3 separate regions of the Homo sapiens genome follow, and regions 1 and 2 are each reported to be linked to region 3. Evidence: microRNA targets listed by miRTarBase, many of them from high-throughput screens and not tested one by one. Region 3 holds a microRNA gene; each other region holds the end of a gene's coding sequence.
Evidence for each region. The annotated mature microRNA hsa-miR-4759 reads UAGGACUAGAUGUUGGAAUUA and lies in region 3 at 1,560-1,580, shown strand. An mRNA with a match to its seed (bases 2 to 7 or 8) in the 3' UTR can be bound and repressed. Matches are read on the target gene's strand: a 7mer-m8 pairs with bases 2 to 8, a 7mer-A1 pairs with bases 2 to 7 and ends in A, and an 8mer does both.

Region 1 (4,057 bases), not on the chromosome of region 3:
CCACTGCACCAAAAAATGCTTTCTATCCTCTGCATCTAAGAGGAATAAAAAGGTTACACATAATCCAGGGACTACATTTCCATCAGAGGACTCTCTCCCATCATGGTTTTGCTGAGATTAATTAAAATTCACAAAAGTATTGCTCAGTTTAATTAGACACTGCTGAGAGTTAGCAAAATGATGTTTCAAAAAAGTGCACTTCAGAAATGCCTACGGGCTGGCGATAAAGTAAGGACTCTGCATCCCAGTAATTAAGTTTTGATTGCTAATGAGGAATCCCAGACACCTCCCTGTAAAAGCCAGCATGCGAGGTGGGGACAAACCCCTAAAATTCAGATTTTATACATGGGCCACCTGTATGGTCAATTTTGCAACAACACTATGACCAAGGCATTCTGATAGCTGTCAAGATTTTCTGTACTAGAAATTAATATGAAGTGTATTGACGTGAAGAAGAATGATTTATCATATGGAAGGAAGTCCCAAGGCTCCTGGGCGCTGAGGTGGGCGACGGAGGTGGGTGGCGTACCTTCAGAGGAAAGGGAAGGGGTGCTCCCTTGTACCGTGAATTGGGCAACAGGCTTGGAGCAGCTGTGAAAGGAAACATCCTCAATTTCTTCTGGCTAGATGCCACAGGAAATAAATTATCCCAAAGGAAAATGTGGTTGGCTATGGGCCAGACTCTCAGAATCTAGGCAAATCAGTGACTGTTTCCTCCCATAGCATAAACTCTTGGCCTCCTTCATGCACTCATGACAGACAGCAACCTTCAGAAGCCTCAGGGAAGAGGTGTTCTCAGCCCATGCGCTAAAGATGGACAGCATCATGCTACGGCAGTCTGAGATCCTGGCTCACAAAAGAACCTTTAAAGTTGTTTTTAAAGATAAACTATGCAAACATGGTATACTGAAGCTTCAAAAGAGCCCTTCGTATCCAATGATCTATTAGCCTATCCAGAAGTCCCTGGAGTTAATATTAGTGACTCATATGACACGGACAGTGCTATAGTGGTGCTGATGCTAGCCGAGTATTTCAACACTACTCTAAATGTCAGAAATACTGTAGCAAGGTACCATTCAATGTATATTAAATAAGTAAAATACATACAGACATTCTATATACATAGATATAGACTGTGGGCAAACACATTCAAGCCACTCAGGGAAGTTCCTTTTTCTTTAGTTACTGAAGCTTGTAGATGACATGGTCTAGGTACCTCTCTCCCCTCGGCTTAGTATAAACATTTAGGCAGAAAACAAATATCCTGATAATTTAGATTATCAGGTAGAAAGACAGATAACTTGCTTGTGGATATGTTGGATTCAGTGAGAGGCTACAAAAATCAATCTGATACATGGGCCATATTGGTAACTATCCTGTTTGTTTTGCAGTTCTGAAACATAAACTTAGTTACTGCCTTTACCCAAACAAGGCAGAGAGTTAAAAGTGAGGTTTTTTTTTTTACAGGTGTGGCAAAATACTTATTACAAAGAAAGCAACTGCAACCCTAGAGAGGGGTAAGCCTTCTCTGGGCAATAGTCATGGACATTTACAGAGGGGAAGGAAGTAAACGTTAATAAATAATTCTGTAAATAAATGCTAGTACATCATAATAACATACCACTTAGACACTACCATGGCTTTACAGCAGGTTTTCTCTAATTCACTGGAACCATGCTATTCCTGTAGAGCAGCTGATTCTTTGGTCATAGTACCTTCAACAAATAAACTATAGAACTAGAGAAACTTTCTAAGGGAGGAAAAAGAAAAATCAAAGTGATACTATTAGTTCTGAAGTTGTGCCACTTGCGGAGATTTTAACTTTAGGGATTACAGAGTTTCAAGGTTAGGAAATCACAAAGCTCTAGGTCTCAGTGGGCTAAACTTTCACTCCTTTCTCTTCCTCTACAGAAGAATATTCTGTTTATCACCCTGAACTTCAAAGGGACTGTAACTGGAACAAGCTCATGACTGCAAAGTTAATAGAACCATTTTGAGTAGACAGAAAGAAAGGACTGAAAATAGATGAAGTATTTTTAGGAGAAAGTTGAGTAGTAGCAGAGTGAAGTGGCTATCAAGGAGACTGAGACAAGAATAAACAAAGTCACTTTGCACCTGCAACCAGAAGATTCCTCAGTTTTCCAACCATAATTCATTCTGACTACTACTTTCAGATATATTTTAAAGAACCAATATCCATCGTGGACAACTGCAGCTACGTTTTCCTTCCTTATTTTGTCTTAAGGACACAAGAAAAGCTGTTTCATTTTAGTATTAATTTGTTAGGAAGGAAGACCTCAATATCACAACCAGGACACAACCCCATGCCCACACACGCACACACACGCACGCACACACACATATGTAGAGTAAGAAAAATCTATTCCTGGATGGAAGGATATCAACGATAGAGATGATGGATTTCTAGTCTAGACCCTGTGGGAGTGAGGTAACAATTCCTGCAGACTGAGCACATGCCTACTGCTGCAGCTCCTCAAGGGCCGATTATTGCCCCCATCCTTTAGCAAACAAAATTAACTGGGTATCAATCTTTCCTCAGCCTTCAAAGGCAAAATGACTCCACTTCCTCTTTCCCTTGCTTGGCTGAAATGGAATCAGCACTTCAAGCAAGCTAATGTGCTTCCCTAAGTTCTCAATCCTACGATCTTCACGCTTCTTTTCCCTGCTTCCAGCAGGGTCCGATCTCAACAACAAGTGCTAAGCTGCACATGAAGCTGCCTCATATTGGAGCAACTAGATTCCCAGCACTGTGATTCTTACTGGAGCATCTGTGAGTGCTCAATTCTACCTCTGTGACTGGGCAAGATTTCACATATAAAGGCGTATATTAACTCCAGCTAGAATTTACTAAAACTACAGTTTGTCCAGTTAAGTGTTTCACAATGGATTAAATTCTTTAACCTTAAAAAAAAGTTTAACAGTTGATATGAGAATACATAAAACAACTGAGCAGACTGCAAACAAGAGAAAACCAAAAGAGAAGGGATACATAATTCATTCTGAAATCACGATCCCCTCCTCCTCACAGAAAAGGTGCATTAGCTATCAAGTTGCAAAAATCATCAAAGCAAAAGAAATCAAGAGCAAAGACAATCTGTACAGAAACTAACAAAAATATACAATAGAAAAAATTACTAATGCACCGTTTTGTCACAGACTTTTTTTTTTTAAATATATTCACGGATTACCAGAAAGATCTTGAAAAACCCTATTTTGCTCCATGACCAGCACTTCCTGGCCGCAGATGGACTCTAAGTAACTTTTTGCTTAATGCTTGGTGTTTCAGGTCGGTGATCCTTCCTCTCTGACACGTTACGCTTGACTTTGGCAGTGATTGGAGAAGTATCCGGGTTCAGCGAAGGACTCGAGTGCGACTTCTTCAGTCCTGCAGCCTCGCTTTCATCGTTACTCAGTAGCTCTTTGCCTCCTTCCTTGAGAATGCTGACATACATTTCATAGCGGGTTTTCTGAAGGCAAAGCCAGAGAACAACGGTAGTCAGAAAACTGTTCAAAATGCACGTGTGCAGCACACTTGTGTATTACCCACCTGGAGAGTGTGAATGGCTGTTGAAGACTTCGCTTCATTTCCCAAACTGACAAATTACTTGGGCACTTACTGGGCACATGAGAGGCAACTACAGAGACTGTCTTATGTAGATAAGAAATTAAGTTAGAATTTTAGTTCTCATTTGTTCTAGATTCTGACAGAATGTCAACTTGGAGTTGCTGGCTACCAGATGGAACACCATGAATCTAGAACACTCAGGCATGAGAAGGGTCTAAGTTGGAGGAGCTGTCACCTCTGGTTTTCGGCGGCTGCATGGCTCTTGTGGCTCTGTACCAAAGTCACCTGAGCCTCCCCAGGTAGTCCAGGCCTCACAAGAAACTGGCTTGGATATGGTTGTTTACTCTTTTTCTGACTCCCTGTAACCCTACAAAGGCTTGCCTTGAGGGACCATTCCGTGGCTAATCTCCTGGACAGTCAGTCCCCTATGAGACCATACCACCTTCTAGAAGCTGCTCTGGGTTTCCCTCC
Region 2 (4,057 bases), not on the chromosome of region 3:
CCTTGTGATCTGCCCACCTTGGCTTCCCGAAGTGCTGGGATTACAGGCGTGAGCCACTGTGACCGGCCACATTCTGACCTTTTAAGCACCTACCTCTCCACTAGGGCAAGAACAAGGGTGAAGTGAGTGAGGCTGTTGCCTCAAGTGCATTTTTTCGTTTGTTTGTTTTTGTTTTTTGAGATGGAGTCTCGCTCTGTCACCCAGGATGTAGTGCAGTGGCACAATCTTGGCTTACTGCAACCTCTGCCTCCTAGGTTCAAGCGATTCTCCTGCCTCAGCCTCCTGAGTAGCTGGGATTAAAGGTGCACACCACCACACCTGGCTAATTTTGTATTTTTAGTAGAGACAGGGTTTCACCATGTTGGCCAGGCTGGTCTCAAACTCCTGACCTCAGGTGATCCGCCTACCTCAGCCTCCTGAAGAGCTGGGATTACAGATGTGAGCCACCGCGCCCCATCCTCACTGTCTGCTCTGACTCACTTCTCTCTCCCATGTCTCAGGGGCCCCTGACTGAACCTTGGGCAGAAGACAGTCCCCCAGACCAGCCTCCCCCAGCTTCTGCCCGCTCCTCAGTGGGGGAAGGAGAGCTCCAGTATGCATCCCTCAGCTTCCAGATGGTGAAGCCTTGGGACTCGCGGGGACAGGAGGCCACTGACACCGAGTACTCGGAGATCAAGATCCACAGATGAGAAACTGCAGAGACTCACCCTGATTGAGGGATCACAGCCCCTCCAGGCAAGGGAGAAGTCAGAGGCTGATTCTTGTAGAATTAACAGCCCTCAACGTGATGAGCTATGATAACACTATGAATTATGTGCAGAGTGAAAAGCACACAGGCTTTAGAGTCAAAGTATCTCAAACCTGAATCCACACTGTGCCCTCCCTTTTATTTTTTTAACTAAAAGACAGACAAATTCCTACCTCTCTGTACCTTGGTTTCCTGCTCTGTAAAACAGGAATGAGAAGCCCTACTTGCAAGGTTGTGGTCACCATTCCAGGAGTCACATCCCGTTAGAGCTCCTGGCACAGGTGTATGCCGAGCACTGATGGATCGCTGTGCTTTGAACACAAAGGTCCTGCTGGGAACCTCTCCTGATTCTGGTGGCAACTAGTACTTATATGTCTGTGTCACTTGCCTGCAAAATAGCGATTCTGCAACTTTCCAGGAAATAACCTCAGCCTGCAAATCAGGTCTAGGTAGCATCTGGATCCTGCCCACCTCTTCAGCCTCATCTGCCCACCCTGTGACTGCTAGGCCGCCTTACTCTCTGCAGTCTACGTATTGTGCACAGTCCAGTGGGAATCTTTAGGACACACTGAGCTCTCTCCGCACTGCTCACAGCCCATCCATGGCTCCTGGATCCTGAACCTCCCATCACATCCTCTTCGTGACATCACTCTCCCACTTCAGTCCACTCCTCCATCTTCACCACTTAACCCACTGGTCCCTCTGGTCTTTTCCAAATCATTTGCAACATGCCCTGTTGGTTCATACCTCAGTCCTTGCACACTGGGGACCCTCCTCCTAGAACGCCCTCCTCCTGGGCCTTCTTCTGTCTCTGTCTTTGAAAATGGAGTTCAAGGATTGGACTTCTGGGTTGAGCTGAGGGAGAGAGTGAAGCAGCAGCTCATGATCTCCCTCCTCTAAAGCCAAACCCAGGGAATGAGAAACGTTTCCAAAGGGGCACAGGATCATCTGGCAAATTAAACAACATGATCCAAAAAAATTTACCTACATGCAGCACCCGAACGAGGAAAGGGACATCTCACAACAATCACTTTATGCAGTAGCCCTGATAGGAAGAAATCAAAGGACTGGAGGAAGCACTAAAACTTCCCTAAATCTAGACTCTTGCCCATTTACGGCAGCATCAAAAAACCGTAAAGTACCAAGGAACAATTTTTTAAAAATCATGGCCGGGCACAGTGTCTCACGCCTGTAATTCCAGCACTTTGGGAGGCCGAGGTGGGCAGATCACGAGGTCAGGAGATCGAGACCATCCTGGCTAACATGGTGAAACCCTGTCTCTACTAAAAATACAAAAATTAGCCGGGCGTGGTGGCGGGTGCCTGTAGTCCCAGCTACTCGGGAGGCTGAGGCAGGAGAATGGCGTGAACCCGGGTGGTGGAGCTTGCAGTGAGCTGAGATCGTGCCACTGCACTCCAGCCTGGGAGACAGAGCGAGACTCCGTCTCAAAAAAAATAAATAAATAAATAAATAAATAAGTAAAAAATCATATCCGAGCTGGGCGTGGTGGCTCACGCCTGTCATCCCAACACTTTGGGAGGCTGAGGAGGGCAAATCACTTCAGGTCAGGGGTTCAAGACCAGCCTGGCCAACATGGTGAAACCCCATGTCTACTAAAAATACAAAAATTAGCCAGGCGAGGTGGCGTATGCCTGTAGTCCTTGCTACTTGGGAGGCTGAGGCAGGAGAATTGCTTGAACCCGGGAGGCGGAGGTTGCAGTGAGCTGAGATTGTGCCATTGCACTCTAGCCTGGGCGACAGAGCAAGAGTCTGTGTCAAAAAAAAAAAAAAAAAATCCTATGCTATGGTTTGGATATGGTTTGTTTGGCCCTGCCAAGCCTCCTGTTGATATTTGATGCCCAGTGTTGGCGGTGGGGCCAAATGGGAGGTGTTCAGGTCCCGGGATTGGATCCCTCATGAATGGCTTGGTGCTGTCTTCAAGGTAATGAGAGAGTTCTCACTCTGTTACTTCCTGTGAGAGTTTCTCCAAGAGCTGGGTGTTAAAAAGACATTGGCACCTCCCCTCCCCAGCCCGTGCTTCCTCTCTTGCCGTATTGTCTGCACATGCAGACTTCCTTTTGCCTTCCACCATGAGTGGAAGCTTCCTGAGACCCTCACCAGAAGCAAAGGCTGGTGCCAAGCATTTTCTATGTGGTGCAGAACTGTGAGCCAAATAAACTGTGGGGGGTGCACGGCAACATATTCAAGCTTATGTACAAGGCATTTGAGGTCGAGGCATGGAAAAATACTGAGGCACCGTGTGCGTGTTGTTTGTGCATGAGATTGAAACTCCTTGACCCTGAAAACAGGGCAAGGAACGGAATGTGTGATAAGGAGCGCGGAAAGCAGCCTCCTGAGACTGTAGTCTGAGTGTTTTTACCAGGCCATATGTGTCTCATGACCCGACCGCAAAAGGCCATCTGGTGGACATTTTGGTTTAACAAACCCTTTCGAGAAACACTTGGCGGACGGATTCTGGGGCGGCACTCTTTCAGAGATGCTGCTGCCGCCGCATCCCGCTCAGCTGGAATTGTCTGAGTGCTTCATTCTTGGCGTTCACTGCAGCTACAAGCTGTATAAACCTCTTTTCTTTATAAATTACCCAGCCTCAGATATTACTCTATAGCAACACAAATGAACTAAGATAACACGGAATGCTTCTGTACTGATGAATATAGAACATTTTTGAGAGACTTAAGGAAGGCCCAAATGAAGGAAGAAATATATCACGTTCATGGATTAGAAGGCAAAAATGGTTAAAATGTCAGTTGTCTGCATATTGATTTAGGTAATCCCTGTCAAAATTCCTATATATATATAAAATATATGTATATGTGTATATGTATGTACATAAGTATAGATGAGTGTATATGTATGTATATTGTAAATATAAGTTTATATATATACATATATAGTTATAAATTGATAAGTTGGTTCTGAAATTTATATAAACACATAAAAACCTAGAATAACCAAATCATTGTGATAAGAAACACATTTAGAGAAGGCAGACTTTAACACTAGAGTAATACAGAGAGTGTGGTGTGGACTAGAGTACAGTCTACAAATGGACCCACACATATACAGTCAACTGAATAGCATCAAGTCTATTCAATTGGGACAGGAAAGACTTTTAATAAATGTTGGTAGGTGGTCGGGCGCGGTGGCTCACACCTGTAATCCCAGCACTTTGGGAGGCTGAGGTGGGTGGATCACTTGAGGTCAGGAGTTCAAGACCAGCCTGGATAACATGGTGAAACACCATCTCTACCAAAAATACAAAAAAAAAAAAAAAAAATTAGCTGGGTG
Region 3 (4,066 bases):
TCCTGCCTCTCAGACTGCTGCATCAGCCTTGTAACCCAAGATTGCCTTAGGAATTCAGGAGAGCTGGGAAAGGTGACCCTGCAGGGCTCTTCAATCCTCCCTAGTTAACTTGAGGTCAAAGCATCCCTGAAGAAGCTGCACTTATTGCCACAGTGTTTGTCTTACAGGGAAATCTCCCAGATGCAGTCAATGTGTGAAAACCAATCACTAGAAAGGAAAGAAACTGCCCTTCCTTTAAGGAATGTGGAATCTTTCCTTTTGAAGATCAAGATTTGGAGCCCATAATCCTGTGGATGGATGACGCCAACATTCAGCTCTGCTGCTTATTCCCCATAATTTCTCCGCTTGACCTGTGACGAATCAGCTTCTGCCTTTCCAGGGACTTAGAACCTTTCTTATGGGACTCCTCTCACTCTGAATGATGGTGATTAATTACCAGTGTACTTTAAAAGTCTCCTCTATTTAATTACATCCTCCTGAGTATTTGGACTAATTCCTCTTAGTTTCCGGTGCAGATCGGAATGTTGCCTTGAGCAAGTCTCATGTTTCTTTCTCCCGCTTACGCAGTCAAGCACATACATAGATACGTAATAAATATTGATTAAGGTTCTGTATTAGGCTGTGTTTTTATCAGTAAGGATTAATAGGCATAAATGAGAGACATGATCCCTACCCTGGAGCCTAAATGGCATGTGTTATAAAGACGCTTTCAGGCTGACCAGTTCTTCTAGTGCAGCTGAGAAGACAGCCATGCCTCCTCATTAGCCCACTTTATAGGGAAGAAATGGAGACTCAAAGTATCTAAATCACTTGTCTGAGATAAAACAGAGAACCCAGAGACAGAGCTGGGACTCCACTCAGATCTTTGACTACTGAAGCCAAAGACGCCTAATCAATAAAACACTGAATTATTCTCAGTGATGCTATTGGATAATTATTTACGTTTAGGTTTTATATTTGTGTTTTTCTGCTTAGGAGGTAAGAAACGTGTCAGGAACATTAATGCCATACTTAAGAACTGACATTTAACTACTGAATTCTGTTTTACTGCGGCAATATTGTGAATTATGCAATTACACTGTACCTTGGATTAGAAGTTATTTAACTCCCCAAAGAAAACATAGCAGTTAGAAATGGATGCTTTGTGAAAATATTCTCTGCCTATTAGGAATGTAAAAAAGTAGTTTTAATTCCCATTTAAAAGTTATAATTTTAACCTTAAAAATCAAAATCTGTTTAAATCAAAATCTTTTTTGCTATAGATGGCAAAAGGTACCATAATTATCAAACCATGCTTTGCTCCCAAAAATGTGATGCTGAGTTGATACATACATTTCAAAAGCAAATGAACTATTTAGCTAAAAAGCAAAACATAAGTACATGTGGATATAAATAACATCTACTATCTAAACTCTACCCAATATATTCCCCAAAATAATTCCCTGAAATAGGCACTATTATCCCTATGTTTCAGATATGAAAACTGGAGCTCAGAGAGTTTAAATAATTAGACCAGTGTGACATAGGTATAAAGTAATTTAGCAAAAATTGGGCTCATTTAGGACTAGATGTTGGAATTAGACAGAAAAAAGTTAGACACAAAAAATTGTGTCTAATTCCAACATCTAGTCCTAAATGTACTAAGCCAATTTCTCATACACCTAGTAATCTAGGTCAATAATTAGGAAGCACATATTCTTTATTTTGGAAATATTTTTTAGCAATCAACTCAGTCCTCTATTTATAGATGTAGGATTTAGATGTGTTTCTTACAACAAACAAATTAGGTAAGTGACATTTTAAAGCAAACCCTGTTGAGTGTCAGGCTTGGCTTCCTTTCCTTGCTATTAAGAACAAGACAGAAATATTTACCATAAGCCATTGATGACCTTTGACAGGAGCCTACAATTATCACTGACAATGAAATAAAACATGTTAAATTTCTGTGCAAACTGATTAGCCCTGGATGAGCCAGTACTGTCTCCAGTAACTTCTAAGAAGGACATCTCTGCATACCAAAGTTGCCTGTGACAAATTTCATCCAGGGGTCATTTACGGATGCTTAAAAAGATAGTAAGAAGGCAGTAGCAGTAGCAAATTTCTCTTGAACTTTTAAATGACACTGTCAGAAGAAAACATCCACCGTGTTGCTGACTTTGCCTTCCCTGTCGCTCGTATTAGTTAACCTTAAAAGTGCAGATATAAACAAATTTAATTCCCAGTGGTACATCTGAACCAGGAGAAATCTGGAATTAATTGCTAAGTATTTTGGTTCCTGTTGCAGCTGTTACAAGTGTTTGATTTGGTGAGGGAAAAGAAAAGGCGCTGCATACCGATTTCGTGAGCCACAGTGAAGGCTGCGTGGAGGCCATCGTCTTCAATCACAGCACAGCTGCGCTCTGGAGAACATATGGTCCCAACGTCTGCCATTCCCAGGGTGTCACATGAATGATGCCCACATAAATCCTGCCCAGGAGAAAGAAAGAAATCATTAAAATCAATTTACATCCAGAAGGAGCCGCCACATAGAGCCACTTGCTTACCCCAAATGGCAACAGGGATATGTTTATGGTATCACCTGTTCCTCTCTGGAAACGTTCCAAAGGCAAACTCAAGGCAGAGACTCTTCTGAACTGCTCTGGGGCCCAGAAACACAGAAGGATAATGGAACTCAATTACATTTAAAAAGATGTCTTAGGATTGTAACTTGTCTATTACAATAGCACCCGCAGCTTTAACAAAGCCGTAATGCAGATACGTCTCTGATCACCTTCCCATATGGTCATGCTTAGGAAAGTCCTAAAATTCTGATGGAAATTCATGCTAAATTTATCAAAATCTGGCCTTATAATTTGTTTTCTATTACAGGGGCAAACTGCAGCCAGACGTCTGCAGCAGAGTATAAATTTATTAGAAATTTGGATAGAAAACTAAATTTTAATTCATAATTTGAGGAAAGGTCATCTTTTACTCCCCAAATGAGCTGTAATTTCATAGGTTGTGTCTTCTGAAATCTGTACCTTCTTACTCATAACATTTAATGTAGCATTTCTCAACCTGACCAATCTGCAGAAAATATATGTCATATATTAATTGTGTATACATGAATATATGCATTTTTCTGGTAAAAAGTCATAGTTTTTCATAGATGTCATGTAATCTTTTAAGAGATTCTCAAATAGGAACATGATTCCACCCCAATAATGGTGAAAAATGATCAATTTAGATGAAAGGGACCTCAACAAGCCTCTTGAGATATGAAACATAAAGAGAAAATATAAGCCGCAACTTTTTGACATGACAGATTCATAATGATAAACTTTCCCTTTAAATGCTATTTGAGTATTAATGGACATTAGCATTTCTTGTGCTTGACCACAATTTTCCATGAAAATTTACTAACAATGTGCTCATTTATATTCCCAAAGAGCAAGATCGTGTTTCTAGTAAGCCATAAGTTAGGAACTCTAAAAGGAAAAGTTTTAAAAATATACTAATTATTGTAAAGACAACTGTTTATTGGTTAAAATAATAAATGTTTCTATTATACAACAATCATTTTTGTATGCCCAACTTCCATATTCTCCAGCTTATATAGTAGGAACTCAGCAAACATTTGTTTCATTGAGTTGTGACCTACAGTCAGATACATTATAGTGCTCCCACATCTTTAATATGCTGTATGCCAGCAGGACCTCAGCAGGCTCCAGACAACCAGTACAAGGCAGTGTGACTACATAACCAGTGCTACATACTCAATGGCAACATACTCTTCTAACCCTTTGCTATTTTGCTGCATAAAAATCCTACCAAGGTGAAGAGTATTTAGAAACTCAGCTGTATTCTCTTCTCTTAACTTCATTCTCAGGTCCTTATTGTGTTCTGTTTATTATGAGTTCCCAGCTGAGATAAGTTACAGTGTGGCCACCAAGTTACTGTAGCTTTAGACACTGGAAATCTCAGCCAAGTAGCCTTGGTTAATCATGTCACAAAACCAACAGCCTTCCAAAGTTTCCTGTATATCCTCCCATGTCATCCCATGGGATGCCAAATTACAGCTGTTGAG

Region 1: the mRNA of PSD3 is a reported target of hsa-miR-4759. The part of its 3' UTR that is shown has no 7-base or 8-base seed match.
Region 2: the mRNA of SIGLEC9 is a reported target of hsa-miR-4759. The part of its 3' UTR that is shown has no 7-base or 8-base seed match.

Annotation. Positions count from the first base shown.
Region 1 is chr8:18,532,471-18,536,527 of GRCh38, forward strand. PSD3 (pleckstrin and Sec7 domain containing 3) reads right to left here. Exons shown (of 16, transcript NM_015310.4): 16 at 1-3,488. The coding sequence ends at 3,273. Among named protein-coding and RNA genes, the nearest start is that of NAT2, 140 kb to the left of the region's middle.
Region 2 is chr19:51,129,391-51,133,447 of GRCh38, forward strand. SIGLEC9 (sialic acid binding Ig like lectin 9) reads left to right here. Exons shown (of 7, transcript NM_014441.3): 7 at 501-920. The coding sequence ends at 689. Among named protein-coding and RNA genes, the nearest start is that of SIGLEC9, 6.5 kb to the left of the region's middle.
Region 3 is chr21:26,952,406-26,956,471 of GRCh38, forward strand. MIR4759 (microRNA 4759) reads left to right here and starts at 1,556; the gene lies at 1,556-1,638. It overlaps ADAMTS5 (ADAM metallopeptidase with thrombospondin type 1 motif 5), which reads right to left. Exons shown (of 8, transcript NM_007038.5): 2 at 2,334-2,466. RefSeq lists an enhancer at 1,603-3,029.